3 linked regions of the Homo sapiens genome follow. The protein of the gene in region 1 purifies or fractionates together with the protein of each later gene. This does not show direct contact. Each region holds a gene or a part of one and is shown in the gene's direction. Other genes may lie near its edges.

Region 1 (7,235 bases):
CAGAGACAACGGTTCTTTCCAGTTTTGCTCTACACAGTTCCGTATCTTCAGAGCTCCTGCAGAATTGTCAGGGACTAGTTTGTGGAAAGGTCTGAGAGTTCCTGGAGGCTATAATTAGCTTTTTGGGTTTTTCTTCTTTGCCTTAGCGTTGAATTTCAGGAGAAAATTGCAGTCAGTTCAGACATCTTGGAAAGAGTCCCATCTCTGGTCAAGCAGAGACTTTTCCTCTGTTGAACTGAGGAACACACTGTGCATTTCTTCCTTCTGTTGTGAGCCACTCTTACTCTTTTCAGGGCTCTCTTGTGACAAACATGCCAATCACTAGCACTTTGCACCCCTGGGCTTCTCCATTTCCCATTCACAGCTTTGATTTCCAGAGCTGAGGCCTTTAACTGGAGACCTGGAGGGGCAGGGCCCAAGGGCAAGGGCCGCATTAGCACAGGCAATCAGGGAGGGCCGCTGAAGGACACTTGGACCGTCCACCTGCCCCAGCCCAACAGTCAGTCATCTGTCATCAGCTCAGCTGAGCAGCCCTGGATCCCTGCCCGACTGTGGCTGGCTCTTTGCCCGGTTTTTCCCTCTGTCTGTGCCCCTGGATGGCAGGCTGAAGTCAGAGGGGCTGTTTCATTCTCAGCCCCCTCAGCAGCACTGGGGGAAGAAAGCATTGTCACAACAGGTTCTTTCTGGCCCTCACCCAACAGCCTGGGCACTTGGCCCTCCTCCTCCTTGACAGCCCTCCCCCTTCCTGCAAAGGACAGGGGCGACAGGGGTTGGTGTTGGGATTGGCTCCCGCTGCCTGACAACCACAAGTTTATTTGGAAGGCTAGCGGGAAGCCCAGCGGCTGGCGTTTCCCTTGACTAAGGAAAAGGGTGCCCATCAGAGTGGGGCGGGCAGCTTTGGGAAGGACACAAGAAGCAGTGAGGGTGTAAAGAGGATGCTGGCCTGGGCAGGCCAGTCCAGCCTGGCCACTAGCAGAATACCAAGCAGTCCAGTGGATTATCCTCGTGGCTAAGCAAGTGTCTGCAGGAGCAGAGATGGCTGGAAGGGGCCTCTGCACACGGAAGATGGCTTGTTCAGCCGATTCACCTCCTGAGGATGCGTGCAGTCTCCTCCAAGAACACATGGAGCTGCTTCCTGATCCCAAGCAGGTCGTTGCCCCTGGAAGGACATGGCTCCGGTGATCCATGCTTCATGCCCACCCAGAAACACACCCCTCAGTGTGTGCCTCAGTTTACCTTGGAGATCATTTTTCATCTCCAGCATCCGTTTCCTTTAGGCTGACTAAAAACAGTTTTGGAAACAAAGCTATTTTGAAGTATTCAAGCAGAGGAATTCTCTAACACTGTCCCCCTTGTCTTTTTTTAATATTCTGGCTATTTTAGATGCCTAAATTTTTTTCTTGAGATTTATTTATTTTTATAGATGGGGTTTTCACTATGTTGCCCAGGCTGGTCTTGAACTCCCAACCTCAGGAAATCCTCCTGTCTCAGCCCCACAAAGTGCCAGGAATATAGGCATGGGCCAGTGTGCCCCGTCTCTTGAGACTGAAATGAAAAATTGCTTGTGGTTTAAATCCCCAGAATTTAATGAAACATGGGAAGATGGCTAAAGATACGTATAAACTTTGGTTTGCATTTTATTAAATTATTTGAATGCAAAACTTGTATAAAGAATCCATTATGTTCTGTAGCTTTCTAATTAAAATGTTCAACATGGAAGGTTGTATTAGCTATTTTTGAAGCAAGGCTTTGGAGGGAGGAAGAATAGGGAGGGCTGAAGTTGAGCACACTTCTCCGAGTTACTCACCAGTAGCCTTGCTTTGCCACGGCTCTGCCCAAAGACCTTGGAGCTTTTGTTAGCTCTTTGGCAAAAGTTTCCTGGTCCAACCCCAAGTATATTAGTTTTTAGTGGAATCCACATGGCATATGGGAGCTGCGGGTTGGAAAATTACAACTGTGTCTGGTGAATATCAAATTATTTACGGATCATTTATTGGTAGTTTCTGAAACTGAACCACACAGCATAGTTGCAGGAGGAAGAAAGGTAAGAAATACACAGGATTTTATCAACTGAGCTGAAGCCATAGATAAGTCATATTTGAGATAATTATTGAATTTGTTTTGTGGGAGAGAAATCTCTAATTCTTCCAAATGATTAGTCCAGTTTCTGCCAAAGCAGGTGAGGTGTCTAATGCCCCACTGAGTGCCCATCTTGAAGCTTATTAAAGCAATTCTCTCTCTTTGCGTCCCTCTTACCTTATCCTCCACATCCTTGCCCCCTCTCCTTATTCATGCTTTGTAAAGAGGTTTTGGAGCTTTCTGGCCAGATAACTTCTAAATACTGATTAAGGAAATGTAAATTACATGATCCTAAGGAAAATAATGATTGCCGGCCAATCCCCTACCCAGAGTTATGGTTGGCCTTCTGGCACACATCTTTCTATCCCATACACTATTTCTAACTTTTTAAAAATCATGAACAGGCCGGGCACGGTGGCTCATGCCTGTAATCCGAGCACTTTGGGAGACAGAGGCGGGCAGATCACATCTGAGCTCAGGAGTTCGAGACCAGCCTGGACAACATGGTGAAACCCTGTCTCTACTAAAAGTACAAAAATTAGCCTGGCGTGGTGGTGGGCACCTGTAATCCCAGCTATTCAGGAGGCTGAGGCAAGAGAATCACTTGAACTCGAGAGGCGGAGGTTGCAGTGAGCCTAGATCCTGCCATTGCACTCCAGCCTGGGCTACAAAAGTGAGACTCCATCTGAAAAAAAAATCAGTATCAAAATCATGAACAACACTTATATGAACCCTGTACATAAATCCTTGTTTCTGGTTTATTTCCTTAAGATAGCTCCTAGAAAGGAATTACCAATCCGAAAAGCTTACGACCATTGTCAAGAATCTTAATTCATCTTGCCAAACCACAACCAGGAAGGACTGCTTATTTCTTCTCCCAGCAGCAGGGAGTTCTTGATTAAGATCCCATCACTAATTTGACAAGACCTAGAAATGCTTCATCCTTTTCAGGTGCCTGGGCTCTGCCCTGTTATTTGTAAAGGGGATTTTTTTTTTTTTTTTTTTTGAAACAGTTTCGCTCTGTCGCCCAGGCTGGAGTGCAGTGGTGCAATCTCAGCTCACTGCAACCTCCGCTTCCTGGGCTCAAGCAGTTCTCCTGCCTTAGCCTCCTGAGTAGCTAGGATTACAGGTGCCTGCCACCACGCCCGGCTAATTTTTGTATTTTTAGTAGAGACGGGGTTTCACCCTGTTGGCCAGGCTGGTCTCGAACTCCTGACCTCGTGATCCACCCACTACGGCCCCCCAAAGTGCTGGGATTACAGGCGTGAGACACCGCGCCTGGCCGGATTTTTTTTTTTTTTTTTTGCGAGGGAGTCTCGCTTTGTCGCCCAGGCTGGAGTGCAGTGGTGCGATCTCGGCTCACTGCAAGCTCCGCCTCCCGGGTTCACGCCATTCTCCTGCCTCAGCCTCCCGAGTAGCTGGGACTACAGGTGCCCGCCACCAGGCCTGGCTAATTTTTTTGTATTTTTAGTAGAGACGGGGTTTCACTGTGTTAGCCAGGATGATTTCGATCTCCTGACCTCGTGATCCGCCCGCCTCGGCCTCCCAAAGTGCTGGGATTACAGGCGTGAGCCACCGCGCCCAGCCCTGGCCGGAAATATCTTATTTATTGAAACGTATCATGTCTTTATCTGGACCTGCTATGAACCTGCGCCTCTGGGCCTAGGCTAGGGCAGGGAATGCGCAGGAGGAGGGGAAAAGCTGCGGACCCAGCTCCTAAGGCCACCTGGTCTCTCCGCTCTTCCCAGTTGGGACACTGCACCGGGTCCATGTGTCATCCAGGTGCCGTGGCCTTGGGAAGGGTTTGGATTCCAAGTCACCTCGCCGCAAGGATGCCCCCGAGAGTGAGGAGGGTCAAGATTAAGATTCGACTTCCTTCACTAGGGCCTTTGTCCTCCCAGGAGCCCCCCTTCTCTGGGGATTTGGGGTGGGGTGGGGTACAACGTTCCTCTGTAGTCAGATGAGAGGTGACTCTGCCAGCGCCCTTTGACATTCTGGGCTAAAAGTTGAGCCTCTCAGAGCCCCAGCCCACCTGGGCCCTCCTGCCCCGCCCTCGGCCGGCGCCCCTCCCCCGAGGCGTGGCCCCTCGGTCGGGGGTGGGCCAACCGGCTCCTTCCTTCCCCCACGGCGCTAGCTCCCGCTGGCCACCTCGGGACCGCAGCCACGTCTGAAAGCGCCTCATTGTGTGCGCTCGGGCGGGCTGCACCGGGCAGCGCCGAGGGTTGCCGGCCGGCGCGCGGGGAGTAGAGGGCGCGGGCCGCAGTGCCGGGTTCCAGAGGGAGCTCTGCGCCGGGTCCTTCCCTGTGGTAGCCCCAGGACACCCCCAGCCTCAACATCCCATTCTGGGACTCCTGCCCTGTTCCCACATTCGTTCTACCTCGAGTCTCCAGGAGCTTCCAGTGGCTTGGTCACCGCCAACTCTCGTCCATGCCTCTTAGAGCCCCTTTCCCGGCCTCACCGGGTGTCGCTTAATAGTCTTGGGACCTTAAGGAGCAAGTCAGCCCCTGCGGACCCTCCCAGTGAAGAGAAAGAGCTGGCTGTGCGGTGGAATTTGGAAGAGACGACGTTTGGGAGCCTTTGCTGAGTCCAGGGAGAGAGGCGTCCCCCACCGTGCCGCTGCAGCTCGGGCAGAGCCGCCAAGCTTTGGGGTACGTTGGTTCTTCATTCTCCGCGGGGGATGTCCCCACACTCGGGTCGGCTGGGGGCCGGGCTGGTGGCACAGCTGGGGACGCTCCTCTGTCCTGCACCGGGGACCTGGGGTGGCGGGAAGAGCTGGGAGTGGCTTTTCCATCAGCAACGTGGAAAGGGCATCGCCGCTGTTGGCGCCGGTTTGGAAGTGTCTTGCTGGGGCTTCGGCTGCGCAGGAGAATCCTCACTGCGAGGGGAGAACCCCTTTTGTCTCGATACTTGAGTTTCAAAGGACATGACTTTCAAAAGCTCTCCAAGGGCTTTTTCCATAGAATTATTGAGAGACGGTAGCTTGGCGGGTTGATTTGGAACCAGACCCAGGGGAATTGGAGTCCTGCGTCACTGCTTCTGACGGCTTCATCTTGGGCTTCAGGACAGGCCCTCTGGGCCTCAGGACAGGTGCCTAGCAAATGTTGACTTTCCTTTCTCCTCCCTTTTTCACAGAGGCAAGGCAGTCAAGTTTCCCATTTTTGAGGATGGGAAAACTGAGGCCTGAAGAGCAGAAAGGAGTTGGCTGACTTAAACCCACAAGCGAGTAGGCCAAGTACCAGGGCCTCTGAGGGTGCTATGCTGCTCCGGGAGCTGGGGCTGGGCTCCTCTCCAGCCTGAGAGGCCGGAACTTTTCTGGCTTTGTTCTACAAACAGAGTCAACTGGAGTATAGAGAGCCAGAGAGTGACTTGCTCTAAGTCACACCCCTCACTGGTAGTAGAGACAGGATTTGAACCCAATCCGGCTTCAGAAGCCAAGCTTCTAAGGCCAGTCGCAGTGGTTCACGCCTGTAATCCCAGCACTTTGGGAGGCCGAGGCAGGTGGATCACCTGAGGTCAGGAGTTCAAGACCAGCCTGGCCAACATGGTGAAACCCCATCTCTACTAAAAATACAAAAATAAGCTGGGCATGGTGGTGAGTGCCTGTAATCCCAGCTACTTGGGAGGCTGAGGCAGAAGAATCACTTGAACCCAGGAGGCGGAGGTTGCAGTGAGCTGAGATTGCGGTACTTCACTCCAGTCTGGACAACAGCGAGACTCCATCTCAGAAAAAACACAAGCCAGGCCTCTAGCCATGACTTTCCAGCGTCTTCTGTTTTGTTTGCCCTTGTGGGGACCCTGTCTGTGCCTGCCACATTCTGTTGCTGGGGCACTGGGGCACCTGAATCTGGTAGAGCCATTGTCCTTGGGTTTTCCTCATTCAAAGACTTTCCCTTGGATTCATAGAATATAAGTGTGGCCCAGGAAGGAAGATTGCTAAGCAAATACTCATAAGTGCACTATGCGCCAGACTTTGTTCTGCTTTACAAATATCCACTCACTCACTCTTTCAATCAAGCCCATGAGTTGGGTTATATTGTTTCCCCCACTTTACAGATTTTTTTTTTTTTTTTTGATACGGAGTCTCGCTCTGTCACCGAGGCTGGAGTGCAGTGAAAGTGACATAATCTCGGCTCACTGCAACCTCTCCGCATCCCAGGTTCAAGCGATTCTCCTGCCTCAAATTCCTGAGTAGCTGGGATTACAGGCACCCGCCACCACGCCCGGCTAATTTTTGTATTTTTAGTAAAGATGGGGTTTCACTATGTTGGTCAGGCTGGTCTCAAACTCCTGACCTCGTGATCCGCCCTCCTCAGCCTCGCAAAGTGCTGGGATTACAGGTGTGAGCCACCGCACCTGACCTTCCAGATTTTTTTTTAACCAAGCAGGCACAGAAGGAAGTAACTTGCACAAGATCGCTCAGTAAATGGTCAAGTGGGATTCACACTCTTAACCTCAGTGCTCTATACCTACTGTCTTTAATGAGACAGACACCATTCTGCTTCTAGTGTCTTGGGCGGGGAAATGGGTCCAGAAATACATGAACAAGATTGTTCTGGGTAGTGATAATAGTATTAATAATAATTTCTCACTATCACCTATTAGTCAATATTGAAATATATCTGATTACCTCTAGGGTATCTCCTGGCAGATGTTTTTTTCAAATCAGAATCCACACAAGGTCCACATGTTGCATTTGACTATGTGTTTTTTGGTTTTGGTTTTTGTTTTTGTTTTTGTTTGAGATGGAGTCTCTCTCTGTCGCCCAGACTGGAGTGCAGTGGCGTGATCTCAGCTCACTGCAGCTTCGGACTCCTGGCTCCAGTGATTCTCCTGCCTCAGCCTCCTGGGTAGCTAGGATTACAAGCACGTGCCACCACACCTGGCTACTTTTTGTGTATTTAGTAAAGACAGGGTTTCACCATGTTTGGCCAGGCTGGTCTCCAACTCCTGACCTAAGGTGATCTGCCTGTCTTGGCCTCCCAGAGTGCTGGGATTACAGGCGTGAGCCACCGCGCCCGGCCCTGAGTTATTTTCCTATAAAATAGTCTCTTCCTTTTTCTGTCATAGATTTGGAAGTATGATTTACTTTTAAAAAATAAGGTAATTAAAATAAATGGTTAATAAACCAGGGAACATTCCAGATTATCTCTGTAATG
Region 2 (6,874 bases), on another chromosome or scaffold:
TGGCAGGAATATCGCAGAAGTGACGTCCTTCTCAGGTTGTTGTATCAAAGGTACGTGATGCCAATCTACCTTGCCACTGATGGCCCGAGCTTTGTCACATAGATAAGGTGGTTTCTGCACTGAAAAGCTGTTATTACTTTTTTAGGTTAATAAATATGTCAAAGCAGATACTTTGATCCTATGGAAATCTCCAATGAAGCTAATTTAAGTATAAGACACACTAGGTAAAAAGTAACAAGGTAAAAGAAGATATCCCATGCTAAACTAATCAAAGGAAAGCAGGAGTCAATTTCAAGTCAGAGTCTAGGGATAAAGAGGGTCATTTCATGATGACACAGGGGTCAACCAGTCAGGAGCATGCACGATGTGAGCACAGAGTCTCAAAACACATGAAGCAAAAGCTGATAGAGCTGCAAGGAAAAATTACAGACAAATCTGCAATTACAGTCAGAGGTTTCAACACCGCTATCAAGAATTTGTTTGTTTGAGACAGGGTCTTGCTCTGCCACCCAGGCTCAAATGCAATGGCACAATCACGGCTCACTGCAGCCTTGACTTCCTGGGCTCAAGAAATCCTCCTGCCTCAGCCTCCCAAGTAGCTAGGATTGCAGGCATGCGCTGCCATGGATGGGTGAGTTTTTGATTTTTTGTAGAGATGGTGTCTCACTTTGTTGCCCAGGCTGGTCTCTCAATAATTAGCAGAGCAAGTAGACAGAAAGTGGATGATAATATGGGCTACTCAAATAACACAGTCATTGCCGTTTATAGGACACCTCGTGGAGCAACAGTACACAAATTCAAGTGCGCATGCAACAACCGCCAACCATAATCGGGGCCATGAAAGAGTCTCAATAAATTTAAAAGGATCCGAAACATAGAATATGTCCTCTGACAACAATGGCTTTAAAGTAATGATCAACAGCAGAAAGAGCTCTGGAAAATGCACAGATATGTGGAAGTGAAATAGCATAGCTCTAAACTCATGGGTCAAAAAGGAAATCAAAGGGAAAATTATAAATTATTTTCAACTTAATGAAAACAAAAATACAACATATCAAAATTTCTGGGATGCAGTTAAAGGTGGACTTAGAGGGAAATTTATAGTACTGAATGCTTGTACAGATCAGTGACCCCAGCTTCCACCTTAAGAGACCTAAAAAAGAAGAGAAAGTCAAACCCAATGTAAGCAAAAGAGGCTGGGTGCAGTGGTTCATGCCTGTAATCCCAGCACTTTGGGAGGCCGAGGTGGGTGGATAACCTGAGGTCAGGAGTTCGAGACAAGCCTGGTCAACATGGTGAAACCCCATCTCTACTAAAAATATACAAAAATTAGCTGGGCATGGTGGCACATGCCTGTAATCCCAGCTACTCAGGAGGCTGAGGCAGGAGAATCACTTGAACCCGGAAGATGGAGTTTGCAGTGAGCCGAGATTGCCCCCACTGAACTCCAGCTTGGGCAACAAGGCAAGACTCTGTCTCAAAAACAAAAACAAAAACAAAAACAAACAAACAAAAAAACAAGCAAAAGAAAGAATAAAGAGTGGAAGTCAATGAAAAAAAAGTGCATCAACGAAACCAAAAAGCTATTTCTTTGAGAAGATCAATACAATTGATAAACTGCTATCTGATTGTTCAGTTAAAAAAAAAGCCACAATTGCCAGTATCAGAAATGAGAAAGATGACATCACCTCATACTTCACAGATGTTGAAAGGATAAAGGAATATTATGAACAACTTTATGCTAATAAATTCAACAACTTATATGCGATGGGCAATTTCTTGAGCGATACAAACTACATACATTCAGTCAAGAATAAAATAAACTCAGCAGTTGTATATCCATTAAATAATTCAACCACATATAAAAATGATAATACATCATGACCACGTGGGCTTTATCCCAAGAACACAAGATTGATTTAACACTTTAAAATCAATCATTATACTCTATCATATTAATAGATCATCACGCAAAAAGATTCTCAATAGATGCAGAAAAAACAAAATCCAACTTTCATTCCTGATTAAAAAGACTCTCAGCAAACAAGAGAAAGGATAGTCTTTTCAACAGTCTGGAAAAAACTGATTATCCACATACACAAAAAATAAACATTGAATCATATCTCATACTATAAACCCAAATAAACTTAAAATAGGTAATAGACCCAAATGCAAACCTTTAAAACTCTAAAACCCTTGTGACTTTGGGTGAGGCAAAGATTTCTTATATATGACACCAAAAGCAGGATCCATAAAAGAAAAACATAAATTGGATTTCCTCAAAATTAAAAAATTCTGCTCTTTGAAAAACTGTTAAGAGAATGAACACACAATCCAAAGGCTTGGAGAAAGCATTTACAGATCACATATCTGATAAAGGACTTGTATCCAGAATATGCAACAAACTCCCAAACTCAATAATAAGAAAATAAACAACCCAATTAAAAGTGAGTAAAAGATTTGAACTCAACGCTTACTACAGGAGATGGAGAATAAACAGATGAAATGATGCTCAACATCATTGGCCAACAGGGAAACGCAAATTAAAACCACAGTTCCATCTATCACCACACACCTATTAGAGTATTTGAAATTAAAAAGACAAACCATACCAAGTGCTGGGGAGGATGTGGAATGTAAAACCATACAATCGCTTTGGCAGTTTCTTAAAAAGTTTCACATATGGCTACCGTGGCATCCAGCCACTCCACTCCTAGACATCTATTCAAGAGAAAGAAAAGCATTCATCCAAAGACTTGTGCACAATGTTCGGATCAGCTTTATCTGTAAGAGCCAACACCAGAAACAACCCAAATGCCCACCAGCAGGTGAATGGACACAAACTGTGGTACATTCATACACTGGAGTACCATGCAGCTGTAAAAGAAATACGCATTGACAAACCAAATGACGCAGGCAAATCTCAAAAATAATTGTGCTGAGTGAAAGAAGCTACACAAAAAGTACATATTATATGATTCCATTTGTGCAAATCATAGGAAATGCAAAGTAATCAGTAGTGACAGAATGCAGATCAGTGCTTGCCTGGGGATGAGGGAGGGCAGGGAGAGATGACCAAGAGGGAACCCGGGGTGTTCACTATGCTGATTGTGGTGATGGTTTCACAGGAGTATCCGAGTGTTAAAACGTACCAAATTGAAATATGTGGCTTACCGTCTGTCAATTACACCACAATAAGGCTACTTTTTGAAAACCATGAGGATGGCTCAGGTCCGGCTCAAATGCCCCCACCCTGCGTTCCTTCCTTGGGATGTCAGACGCTGGAGCTGGAGCAGAAGGGGACCTAGATGGGCGGAGATCTAGCCCTACTCACCCACTGGCCACGGGGTAGGCGAGGGACGCTCAGCAGGGGCTTCCCGCAGACCCAGGGTCTTCAAGCCCCAGAAGTCCTGATGCCAGAGGGAAGAGGGGATTTGCCCAGAGTGAGGGGCAGGGGCTGGACCCACAGCCCCTCCCGGCGCGCAGACCCCGCCCCCACCCATAACCACGCCCTCAGCCCCCACCACCTCGTCCTCAGCCCCACAACCACGCCCCCAGCATGCCACAATTACTCCCACAACCCGCCCACAGCCCCTGCGACCTGGGTCTTAGTACCAGCTCCATCTAAAGCCGCACCACCGGCCCCTCCCATGCCCCTCCCATGCCCCTCCCCCATCTCTTCCAGGCCCCGCCCTGCCGCAGAACCCGCCCTCAAGCCCCGCCCCCGCCTAACCACAAATCCCGTTCCGGTCTCCTTACATGCCCCGCCCCTTCCCCGCCCCCGCGGGGAATCGACACAGCCTGTCTCCGCCTTTCGCCCCGCCCCCTCCAGGCCCCGCCCCACCCCGCCCCTCGCCCGCGCAGGCCGGAGTCGCGGCCTCCCCAGCTAGTGGTCGCGGGCGCGGTCGCAGGGGCAGCGGGGTGGCCGCCGCGCCAGGCGTGGAGCTGGGTCTGGCGGGCTCCGAGAGGCCCGGGAGCGGCGCGCAGAGCAGCCTCCGGCCGCCGCCGCGCAGGTAAAGCCCCCGCCCAGCCCTGGGAGCGTGGATTCCCACCCACCCCATGACCATCCCCCCGCCGCGAGTGCTGGGGTCTCGGGGGTCCCAGGTTCCGGGGGTCCTAGGGCCGGAGGGTCTAAAGGCTGGAGGTCCTGGGGGTCCGAGCCTCTCCCGGCCGGCTCCGCGCGCGGCCCCGCCGTCCACGCCCAGCGCGGGCCGCGCGCACAGGGCTTGGCTTCTCTGTTTTCTCGGTTTCCTTCTTCAGGCAGTTGAAAGAAAAGGCGCGGTTCTGTGCCCGGTGCGAGCCGCGGCTCCTTTAGGGCTGGCAGGGAAGGGCTTGCTGGGTTATGACAGTTTTTAGGGGTTGTCGGAGTCAGCCAGGCGTTGGCTGCTGGAGTAGCCCCTGGCGCGCGAGCGCCCGCTGGTGCCCGGCCACGTGCCCAGCTTGACCCGCGCTCCAGGTTCGGGAGAAGCTGCAGCCGTCACCGTCCTCCTGGCGTCCACCCTGAGGAGGGAGGGGCTGGGTGGTCCAAGCCGCCGCCACTCCGCCGCCCGGCCTTTGGTCCCCAGCGGTGCTGTAGGTGGCCAGGGGTGGCCGCAGTGACCACCCACTGGGCCATGCGGAGCCCCCTGGCAGTGCCAGCTCCCTGCACTTGTGGGACGCTCCTCCCGGGCGCATTGGGAGTCTCCAGAAGTAAGTTACAGGCAGAGCTGTTTAAGGAGGCGTGCTCCCCACCCCAGACCCTTCAGTGGGCCCTCAACACCCTCCCCACCAGTGGACGCGTTTCCCAGGTGACCGCAGCCGGCAGTGCTGACCACCCTCCCTCCCTCTCCGCTCCCTCCTGCGTCTTCCCTTTCAGAGCTGCCAGAGTGGACTGCACTGCTTCTCCCAGCGGGGCAGGATGGCGGTTTCATGTCTGGTTGGATAAGGCCTTGCCTGCGGAAACCAGCTCCATCCCCAGGCCCTAGCAGAGGCTCGCGTGTCCCCGTCCCCAGGTCAGGTCAGGATGGGCACCGTGCGCCCACCTCGCCCCTCGCTCCTGCTGGTCTCCACCCGGGAGTCTTGTCTCTTCCTCCTCTTCTGCCTGCACCTGGGCGCCGCCTGCCCACAGCCCTGCCGGTGCCCTGACCACGCAGGGGCTGTGGCTGTCTTCTGCAGCTTGCGGGGCCTTCAGGAGGTCCCCGAGGACATCCCGGCCAACACCGTGCTCCTGAAGCTCGATGCCAACAAGATCTCCCACCTCCCGGACGGGGCCTTCCAGCACCTGCACCGGCTCAGGGAGCTGGATCTGTCTCACAACGCCATCGAGGCCATCGGCTCCGCCACCTTCGCGGGCCTGGCCGGGGGCCTGCGGCTGCTGGACCTGTCTTACAACCGCATCCAGAGGATCCCCAAGGACGCCCTGGGCAAACTCAGCGCCAAGATACGCCTGTCCCACAACCCCCTGCACTGCGAGTGCGCCCTGCAGGAGGCCCTGTGGGAGCTGAAGCTGGACCCCGACTCTGTGGACGAGATCGCCTGCCACACCTCAGTGCAGGAGGAGTTTGTGGGGAAGCCTCTGGTTCAGGCTCTGGATGCGGGTGCCAGCCTCTGCAGCGTCCCCCACAGGACCACAGACGTGGCCATGCTGGTCACCATGTTCGGCTGGTTCGCCATGGTGATCGCCTACGTCGTGTACTATGTGCGCCACAACCAGGAGGATGCCCGGAGGCACCTGGAGTACCTGAAGTCTCTGCCCAGCGCCCCCGCCTCCAAGGACCCCATCGGCCCGGGGCCCTAGCGCCTGTTCCGGCAGACCCCCGCCGGTGGCTGCTGTCACTTTTGTAGTAGGTGGTGACTGATGCTGCTTTTGCTCTTCCCTGAGGCAGGTGTCACAGCCATGTGTGCTCCCCACTGTTGCACTCAGGCACAGCAGCACCTCCAGGCTGGGTGGTTTTGCCACACATCCGTGTGACGGATGAGGAACCTGAAGCTTAGAGGAACGGAATGACTGCCCGTGACGATACCATCAGGAAATTATCCCAGTGGAACTTCAACCCGGGCTGTCCATCGTGACATTCCGCCTCCTTCCACCATGCCAGCCTCTCCCACACGGGGCCCTGCAGGCTGTGGATATGCACTCAGAGGACTAAGGGGGTGCTCTGCAAGCGAGAGGGTTCACCAGAGGGAGCTTGGGTGCAGGTTCACCCGCTGAAGGCGCTGATAAGTCCTGTGCTGAGGAGCTGACTTGCCCTTGTTTACTTACAAAGTGCATTGTAGGTAAACATGAGCCTTGTTCCAGTGTTCGAAGTACATTGGAACGTAAGCCCTGTTTCCAGAGCAAAGTAACAGAGACCAGGTTTTTCTAGAGAGCTAAGTGGGATGTGTAGCTCAAACAAACTGTCCTACCCTTTTTTATTCTCAAATGTTTGTTTTGAGTAACCGTAGTGCCAAAATTTCAGTTCAGTAATGGGGTGAACAATATGGAGAGAGACCTGGGAAAAGTCCAGGGTAGCTTGCCCAGGGGAAGACAGCAGCCACATACCTGGGGGCCCGCCTGCTTCCTGCCCCTCTGGGTGTGCCTGATGCGGGAGGCCCTGCCCCAGGGCGATCTCAGCTCACTGCAACCTTTGCCTCCCAGGCTCAATCACTTCTGCTGCCTCAGCCTCCCTAGTAGCTGGAATTACAGGCATGAGCCACCACGCCTGGCTAATTTTTGTATTTTTAGTAGAGACCGGGTTTCACCATGTTGGCCAGGCTGGTCTCGAACTGTTGGCCTCAAGTGATCCGCCCGCCTCAGCCTCCCAAAGTGCTGGGATTACAGGCGTCAGCCACCGCGCCCGGCCCTGTGCCTTGCTTTTTCTACTCACTAAGATATAAAACAGCTCTTTTTCCAAGG
Region 3 (7,975 bases), on another chromosome or scaffold:
CTGTTTGTGCTGTTGTTATTCTGCCTGCCATGGGCACTGAGTACAGCTGCTCATCATACTGGACTAATCAGGTCAAGGACATGGGGCTTCATTCTAAGTAACTCAGCTGTCATCTTCATTATAAAACCACACATTTTCCTCTGACTCTGGGCAATGACCTGCGTATATAAGCTGTTAGTCATAAGGTATTTATATGTGGGGGAAGAGGGAGACAACTGGTATTAATAATCTTTGAGATTGAAAGGCTTTTACCCTGACACTGACACCGCAGTACCACATAAGCCATGTGGATTTTCCTGTTGCTAAGTAACTCTATCCTTTGGGAAGGGGTTGAGGATGAATTAAATGCTGAATTCTGCTCTGGAGCAAACTCTAATAGAGAGGTTTCTCCTGGAGGAGCCTACTATTTATGCAAATCCAAGATGCCACCTCTGACAGGAAATCTGAGTGCAGCCTTCTGCAGCCCTTGCAGCTTCCTTGAAACCCTATCTCTTCCTTCATGTCTAGACAACAGGATGATGATTGTTTACAAGATGACTTCCTCCCTTTTCTCACACAGGACTACGTGGTCCTTAAACAGGAACAGGTGGCGGGGATTGGGGGCTAGCTGCAGAATGTCCTTCTCTCATTTTTTCCCTCATCCTATGGGAGGGCAACCAATAAACCAGCACAGACACACAGGCCCAGTGGGACAGGAGGATCATTTACTCAGCTTCTTTCTTCTAGGGCTGGATGGGGCAGCATCTCAATCATATAGGGCACAGGACAGACCTCAGTATCACCAGCAAGAATCCATTACAGTTCAACATGTAAGTAAGTGGAGGCGCCTTAATCCCAACACTTGGGAAGTCCCCGGGGGCAGGATTGCTTGAACCCAGGAGTTCCAGACCAGCCTGGGTAATATAGTGAGATCCCATATCTTAAAAACAAACAAAAAAAAAGCCAGGCATAGTGGGCATAGTGGCATGTGCCTGTGGTCCCAGCTACTCAGGAGGCTGAGGTGGGAGGATCGCTTGAGCCCAAGAGATCAAGGCTACAGTGAGTTGTGATAGCGCCACTGCACTCCAGCCCGTGTAACAGAATAAGACCCTGTCTCAAAAAAATAAAGTAAGTGGAGAAAACTGAGAGAAATCTGAGGCTGGCCCTAAGGTAAAATGGTTTAGCAGATGAAGGATCATTGCAGGCCCCCTTGACCTAGTTCTGGCACACAATTTCCCCAAGCCCAGCTAGTACTACTCTATTAAATTTGAATGTGCTGGAAAACACTGTGTGATTCTGTCCACCAGTCTTTTCCTGGGTTTGTGGATGTCCTCCTTTCTCTCTTCGTCAAACTTCTTTCCACATCTACCTCCTTCTCTTTGAGAACTGCCTTGGAGACCCCAATTTCTCTTCCCTTATCTCCTTCCCAGTTACCCTCTCACTTTTCCTGTGGGTCCTTTTCGACTGGCATCTCCATCCTATACTCTTTGGGCCCACAGCTTCCTCTTTTACAAAACACAGAAATTGAACTTTACAGTGAGGATTATTTTTGCTGACTAGTTGATGAGTTTAAGCAAAAACTGTCACAGAAGTATTCTTAATGTTGAGCTTTAGAGTTTCGCGTTAGTCCAAGTGATGCGATCATAAAAAAAAAATTCATCCAGAAGTGTTAGTTGAGGTGTAAACAAACTGAAGAATACATGTGGATACTTGGCAATATTTGAGAAGGTCATAATGCTAAACCATTTTTGTTACTGTTCTAGAAGTAAATGAAAAGAAGTCTGGAAAAGAAGGGGATGTAAGGTTTCAGAGCATGAGGAGAGAGGATGCTTAGCTACCAGACAGCAGCTAAGATTTGGGAAGAGGCCCCAGCTTCCCAAATCTTGTCCAATACTCTTGAACCTAGGCTCTGCTCCTAGATAGTCTCATAATTCATAGTTGCTCCTCTCAATCCAGTTAACCCCTACAGTGCTCTAACAGCCCACTCTCAGCCAAACACCTCTGACTTCATGGTATTCTAACATCTCCAGGTAGTACCTCCAGACCTTTTCCCTGTGCCCCTGGACTCCAAGGTCTATCCCACCCTCAGCTGTCCATCTTCTAGAGCAGGCGGTCTAGCCTCCCCAAACCAGAAGAACTTCCTTTTTATATTCAACCACCTGATGGATGTCCCTGATCAGTTCCCTCAGCTGCAGAGCACAAGAAGGACCTTCAGGATCCAGCTTTCTGTGAGTACACTGCTCCGTGGATTAGTTAGCTGGTCATAGGTCCAGTGTCCTAGAGCTGAGCTTTTGACTCATCTCATGGTTCTGGGGCCTCCTTTGCCTCTCAAGTTTAAGGACATCCATAATTCATTGGATTTAGGATGACCCAAAACCTTCTCATACTAGTTCACTTTTGCCATCTTCTTCTGTTTCTGAAAGGGAGAAAATCACCAGTTTTAGTGGCTGGATTCAGGGGTTAGGGTACATGGACAAGCAACTTCCCAGCCCTTTTTGGTAGTGTTTTGCTTCTTGTCTTATTTGCAGGTAATGATTGCCAGATAGACAGGAATGGGGTCCAGTTAGTTATATCCAGGACCTTATGATATACCCCATATATACCCCTTTGCTCCTAATTTACAATGTCAAACTATAAAAAATGGTTTCTCTTCCTCTGAGCCAGTCTATAACAGTGGTCAGCATTTATTAAACACATACTACATGCCAGATGAGGTGCTAAAAGCTTTGCAAGCATTATCTTACTATATCCTACGGCAATCCTATGCAGATTTTTTAACCACTATGCTAAATTCCTCCTCCTAAATTAAGTGAAAATGACCAAATTTCTAGACAACTGTTACTTTCTCAGTGCTTATGGGGGTGGGGATGAGGGAAGAACACTGACTTTAAGTGCTCCAGGAGAAACTGATATTACAAATGACACAAGCCTTTAGTGGTCAACTGGTTTGGTAGTTTTCAAACATGTAGGTTTTCTTTCCTTTAGTAGACCACAAAATACAAAACAGAAAAAAACAGAGCTTCTTTGATTGAAGAAGGGTGAGGTGCTAGTGCCTTCCCTGCTATGCCTTCCTCCCCGCTCCCACTCCTCAATAGAAGATTCCAGAGACATCTGCACATTAAGCCTTAAGGATTCCTCAATTTAAAAACCGCTAATTGAGGCCGGGTGCGGTGGCTCACGCCTGTAATCACACCACTTTGGGAGGCTGAGGCGGGCAGATCACAAGGTCAGGAGATTGAGGCCATCTTGGCCAACATAGTGAAATCCCGTCTCTACCAAAAATACAAAAATTAGCTGGGCATGGTGGCGTGCGACTGTAGTCCCGGCTACTCGGGAGGCTGATGCAGGAGAATCGCTTGAACCAGGGAGTCAGAGGTTGCAGTGAGCCGAGATTATGCCACTACACTCCAGCCTGGCGACAGAGTAAGACTCTGTCTCAAAAAGCAAACAAACAAAACTACTAATTGAATCCAACCTTCTCGTTTTATAGGTGATGAGACTGAGGCCAAAGAAGAAGGAAAAAGGAGATGTTCAGGATCACGCAATGATTTGTGGCAAAACCCCAGCTATTAATATAACACCTATACAACTTCTAGACCAGTGCTTTTTCCACTTGAAAGGCCTTGTTATCTGAGTTTTGTTTTTTGTTTTTTTTCTGAGACAGAGTCTCACTCTGTCACCCAGGCTGGAGTGCAGTGACGCGATCTTGGCTCACTACAACCTCCGCCCCCTGGGTTCAAGCGATTCTCCTGCCTCAGCCTCCCTCCCGAGCAGCTGGGACTACAGGCACACGCCACCATGCCCAGCTAATTTTTGTATTTTTGGTAGAGACGGGGTTTCACCATGTTGGTCAGAATGGTCTCGATCTCCTGACCTCGCGATCCGCCTGCCGCGGCCTCCCAAAGTGTTGGGATTACAGGCATAAGCCACCGCGCCCGGCCGTTCTCTGAGTTCTTAAGTGGGCATAATGTCAGTGATGCCAGGGCCATGACTGTAGGCAAGGGCTGGAACTGCATGCCCTTTGGTGCTTTTACCCTTCCAAGTTTATGTCCAGGAATATACATCTCTCCCCAACTGCCTAAGTAGGTGCTAGTTGATATCATGATTGATTTGGTCTTCTTGGGTAAGACCTCAGTTAATTCTGGGTAATTTTTTGTTTGGGGATGAACTGTAGCCATCCACCTATGAAGAAAGTGTTGCTTTTATTCTTTGCTAGGTTCCATCCATACCTGGATGAGGAACAGCAAGAATATTTATTTCCTCATTTCCTTTTTACTAATCTCAATGTCTGGTCCTTCAGAAAAGAAACGAATGGGCTAAAGAGATAACTAGACTGGAAGAGAGGAGAAAAGTGTCAGAGGGGTGTTGGAGTAGGATGGGTTGGAGGAAGGACAGGAACAGCAAAGATGGAGGCTCTTCATGCCGGCCCCAATACCTTTCCATGTCTTCTTTCTCCACCCCGATACCCTCTGATGTCCAGTGCCTGAGGAGCTGGGGCAGTAGGGACATACTGAGATTGCCCTCCAACCCCATAAATCTACATCACTTTTCTATTTTCCTGACTCAAGCTTCCAAAGGCTGGGTTCCGCATCCCCAAAACCCATCTCTGAATCTCCAGGGCCTACCACTGACTGCACAGAACAGGCATTAGCGTATGCTTCAAAAAGACATCCCTGAGGAGCATAATAGTCATACTGTCACCCTCTAGCCTATAGTTTGCGAAGCCCTTTCCAGGCAGGACTTCAGTCGCCCCTCCTTGGATGTCCCTAGGGTTAGGCAGGGCCGAAGCCACTATCCCAACTCTACAAATGAGGAAAAGCCAAGAGCCGTGCTGCAGGCAGCTGGCAGCTGGCAGCAGCACTCTTCCACAGATCTCCTGACGAAGGTCGAGCACTTCTCTGCGTCTCCCACGGCCTCTGGCGCAGAGCCTGCCGGGAGTTGTAGTCCAGTGCCCCGGGAGCTCATATGGACTGGACTACAATGACCAGCGTGCCCCGCGCTCCGCGCCCCCTTCTCTTTCAGCCTCGGGCACGGGGGAGGCTCGGCGGACCTGCTGATTGGGAACCGATATGGCGGCGACTCTGGGCAGCGGGGAGCGCTGGACGGAAGGTACTAGGTCCCCGCCTGAAGGAGGGATAGGGCGGCCTTCGGGAGAGATCAGGGATGAGGATCCTGAAGACGCACAAGGGCTGAGATCCTGGGTCTGAGGTGATGGATAGAGGCCTGTGAAAAGATGCTGAGCCTGAGTAGGGTTGCGGATGGGGTAGGGAAGCTGGGGACCGACCGCGAGCCCAGAGTCACCGGTGACGACTTGTTGCCTCCGGCCCCCAGCCCCGCCCCCGCCCGTGCCCCGCCCAGGGCCCGCAGCTGTCAGGCCCCGCCCATGCCAAGGTGACTGGAGGGCCCGTGGGGTGCTGCGGTCTCTCCGCAGCTTGCTAACCTGGCCCTTATCTTTCGCCTAACTGGGCCACCTGACCTTCAGTCCCTGTTTGATCATGTCGCTCCAGCCGGCATCAGGACCAGCCTTTTCCACCCTACAGTCAGGCAAAAAATATTGATCCAATACCTATTGTGTGCCCCGCCTAATGCTGATTCTGCAGTGGGGATTTGACTGACATGGGTCCCTTAGCTCACAAAACTCGCAGCCCACTGAGAGAGTTTGACGACTGAACAGCCAATTACAAAACGGGCGAATAATACAAAACGCCTGGGCTACACAGCAAGGTCAGGGATTTGGAGAGCACACTTACAAGGTACCTAACGCAGACTGGCTGTCAAGGGAGGTTTCTTGCAGAAAGTGTTACAAATGGTGACAAGAAGGATGCGTCGGAGTTAGCCAGGCCGACTTAGAGGAAGACTGTCCAGGAGCAGTGGGTGGAGGTAGCTGAGGGATGTTAAGCGGAAGAAAGATGTTGTTAAAGCCTTTCTCAGGTCCTCCAGAGAAGACATGAGTGCTCTGCCCCTTTTGACTGTATTGCTTATGACCCTCTTTACATTCTGCAGGTGTTGTTATTGAATCTTCTCCCTTTAAACCAGGGGTATCCAATCTTTTGGCTTCCCTGGACCACATTGGAAGAAGAATTGTCTTGGGCCACACATAAAATACACTAACTGACGACTAAATAACTAACTGATGACAGCTAATGAACTTTAAAAAAATTGCAAAAAAAAATCTCATAATGTTCTTTTTTTTTTTTTTGAGACGGAGTCTCGCTCTATCACCCAGGCTGGAGTGCAGTAGCGCGATCTCGGCTCACTGCAACCTCCGCCTCCCGGGTTCACGCCATTCTCCTGCCTCAGCCTCCCGAGTAGCTGGGACTACAGGCGCCTGCCACCACGCCCGGCTAATTTGTTGTATTTTTAGTAGAGACGGAGTTTCACGGTGTTAGCCAGGATGGTCTCGATCTCCTGACCTCGTGATCCGCCCGCCTTGGCCTCCCAAAGTGCTGGGATTACAGGCGTGAGCCACCGCGCCCGGCCCTCATAATGTTCTAAGAAAGTTTACGAATTTGTATTGAGCTCAAAGCCGTGCTGGGCCACATGCCACCTGTGGGCCGCGGGTTGGACAAGCTTGCATTAAACTAACCTCTTTGTGGTCAGGAGTAGATCTTACCCATCCGCCCTCTTGATCTTCTAGCCAAGTTCCTTGGTATATATTAGTTCTATAATTGTTAGTGTAAAAGAATTGAACTCCTCTCTACTTTAAATTTTAGGGGTGGGAGGCACTGCAACAAAAAATACTATTTTACGAGCAGTGTCTCTTCTGACCACGGACCACAGAGAAACATGTTTATTCAGCTTTGTATGAGTGCTTAAAAGTCAGCATGACGCCTCTAGCCCTGGCCATCATGCTTACCTTCTCATGCTTACGAGCAGCCTCCCAGAGAGGAAAGGCAGGTTGCAAAGTTGATTTTCAGGGTCAGATGGAGACCTAATGGAGGGGCTGTTGTTTGCAGCTTACATTGACGCAGTTAGAAGAAACAAATACCCAGAAGACACACCTCCTGAGAGTCATGACCCCTGTGGCTGCTGTAACTGCATGAAGGCACAAAAGGAAAAGAAGTCTGAGAATGAGTGGACTCAGACCCGGCAGGGTGAGGGGAACTCCACGTATAGTGAGGAACAGCTGCTTGGGGTACAAAGGTGAGCATGTGGTGAGATTAAATGAGTGATTTTATGGAAAGTGCTTAGAAGAGTGCCTGGATGTGCTATGTAAGTATTGACTGATGATAATGATGATGATGATGATAATTGAGGCATACTAGCTTCTTGACCTCAGAGGGAAGACTGAATAGAAGTGGAATATTAGGGTATAACATGAACTGACTACCCTGCTTCTACTTTAAGAGAGGCAGCAGAAACCGACTAGACACAACACACATCTACAGGACATTCTTTCAACAACAACAGAACGATTTTCTTCTTAAGGATACATAGAATATTCTCCAGGATAGACCATATCTTAGGTCATAAAACAAGCCTCAATAAATTTAAAAAGATTGAAATCATACAGTGTATGTTCTCTGAAATCAAAAACAAAGGGAAATTTGAGAAATTCACAAATATGTGGAAATTAAACTACAAGCTCCTAATAAGCAAGCAAGTCACAGAATAAATCACTAGGAAAGCTAGAAAATGCTTTGAGATGAGTGAAAATGAAAACACGACGTACTAAAATGTATAGGATGCAGCTAAAACAGTGCTTAGAAGGAAATTTATAGCTCTAAATGCTTATTTTTTTAAAAAAGACTCCAAATCAGTAACCTAATCTACCTTAAGGAACTAGACAGCCTGGACAATACAGTGAAACCCCCTCTCTTCCAAAAAATATATATATACAAAAATTAGCTTGGTATGATGGCACCAACCTGTAGTCCCAGCTACTTGAGAGGCTGAGGCAGGAGGATTGCTTGAACCCAGTAGGTTGAAGCTACAGTGAGTCATAATCGCACAGCAGAGCAAGACCCTGTCTCTCAAAAAAAAAAAAAAAAAAAAA

Evidence for each region. The genes of interacting proteins can lie anywhere in the genome.
Region 2: the proteins of CHST6 (region 1) and LRRC3 purify together in Homo sapiens (affinity purification with mass spectrometry; 2 studies listed by BioGRID and IntAct, with this or other methods). This does not show direct contact.
Region 3: the proteins of CHST6 (region 1) and DNAJC18 purify together in Homo sapiens (affinity purification with mass spectrometry; 2 studies listed by BioGRID and IntAct, with this or other methods). This does not show direct contact.

What each region holds. Positions count from the first base shown.
Region 1 is NC_000016.10:75,492,432-75,499,666, reverse strand, and holds the start of CHST6 (carbohydrate sulfotransferase 6), read left to right. Parts: upstream 1-4,225; 5' UTR 4,226-4,727; intron 4,728-7,235. UniProt on the Homo sapiens protein: Sulfotransferase that utilizes 3'-phospho-5'-adenylyl sulfate (PAPS) as sulfonate donor to catalyze the transfer of sulfate to position 6 of non-reducing N-acetylglucosamine (GlcNAc) residues of keratan.
Region 2 is NC_000021.9:44,451,643-44,458,516, forward strand, and holds the start of LRRC3 (leucine-rich repeat-containing protein 3 precursor), read left to right. Parts: upstream 1-3,867; 5' UTR 3,868-4,013; intron 4,014-4,855; 5' UTR 4,856-5,002; coding exon 5,003-5,776; 3' UTR 5,777-6,874.
Region 3 is NC_000005.10:139,436,519-139,444,493, reverse strand, and holds the start of DNAJC18 (dnaJ homolog subfamily C member 18), read left to right. Parts: upstream 1-4,968; 5' UTR 4,969-5,048; coding exon 5,049-5,088; intron 5,089-6,935; coding exon 6,936-7,122; intron 7,123-7,975.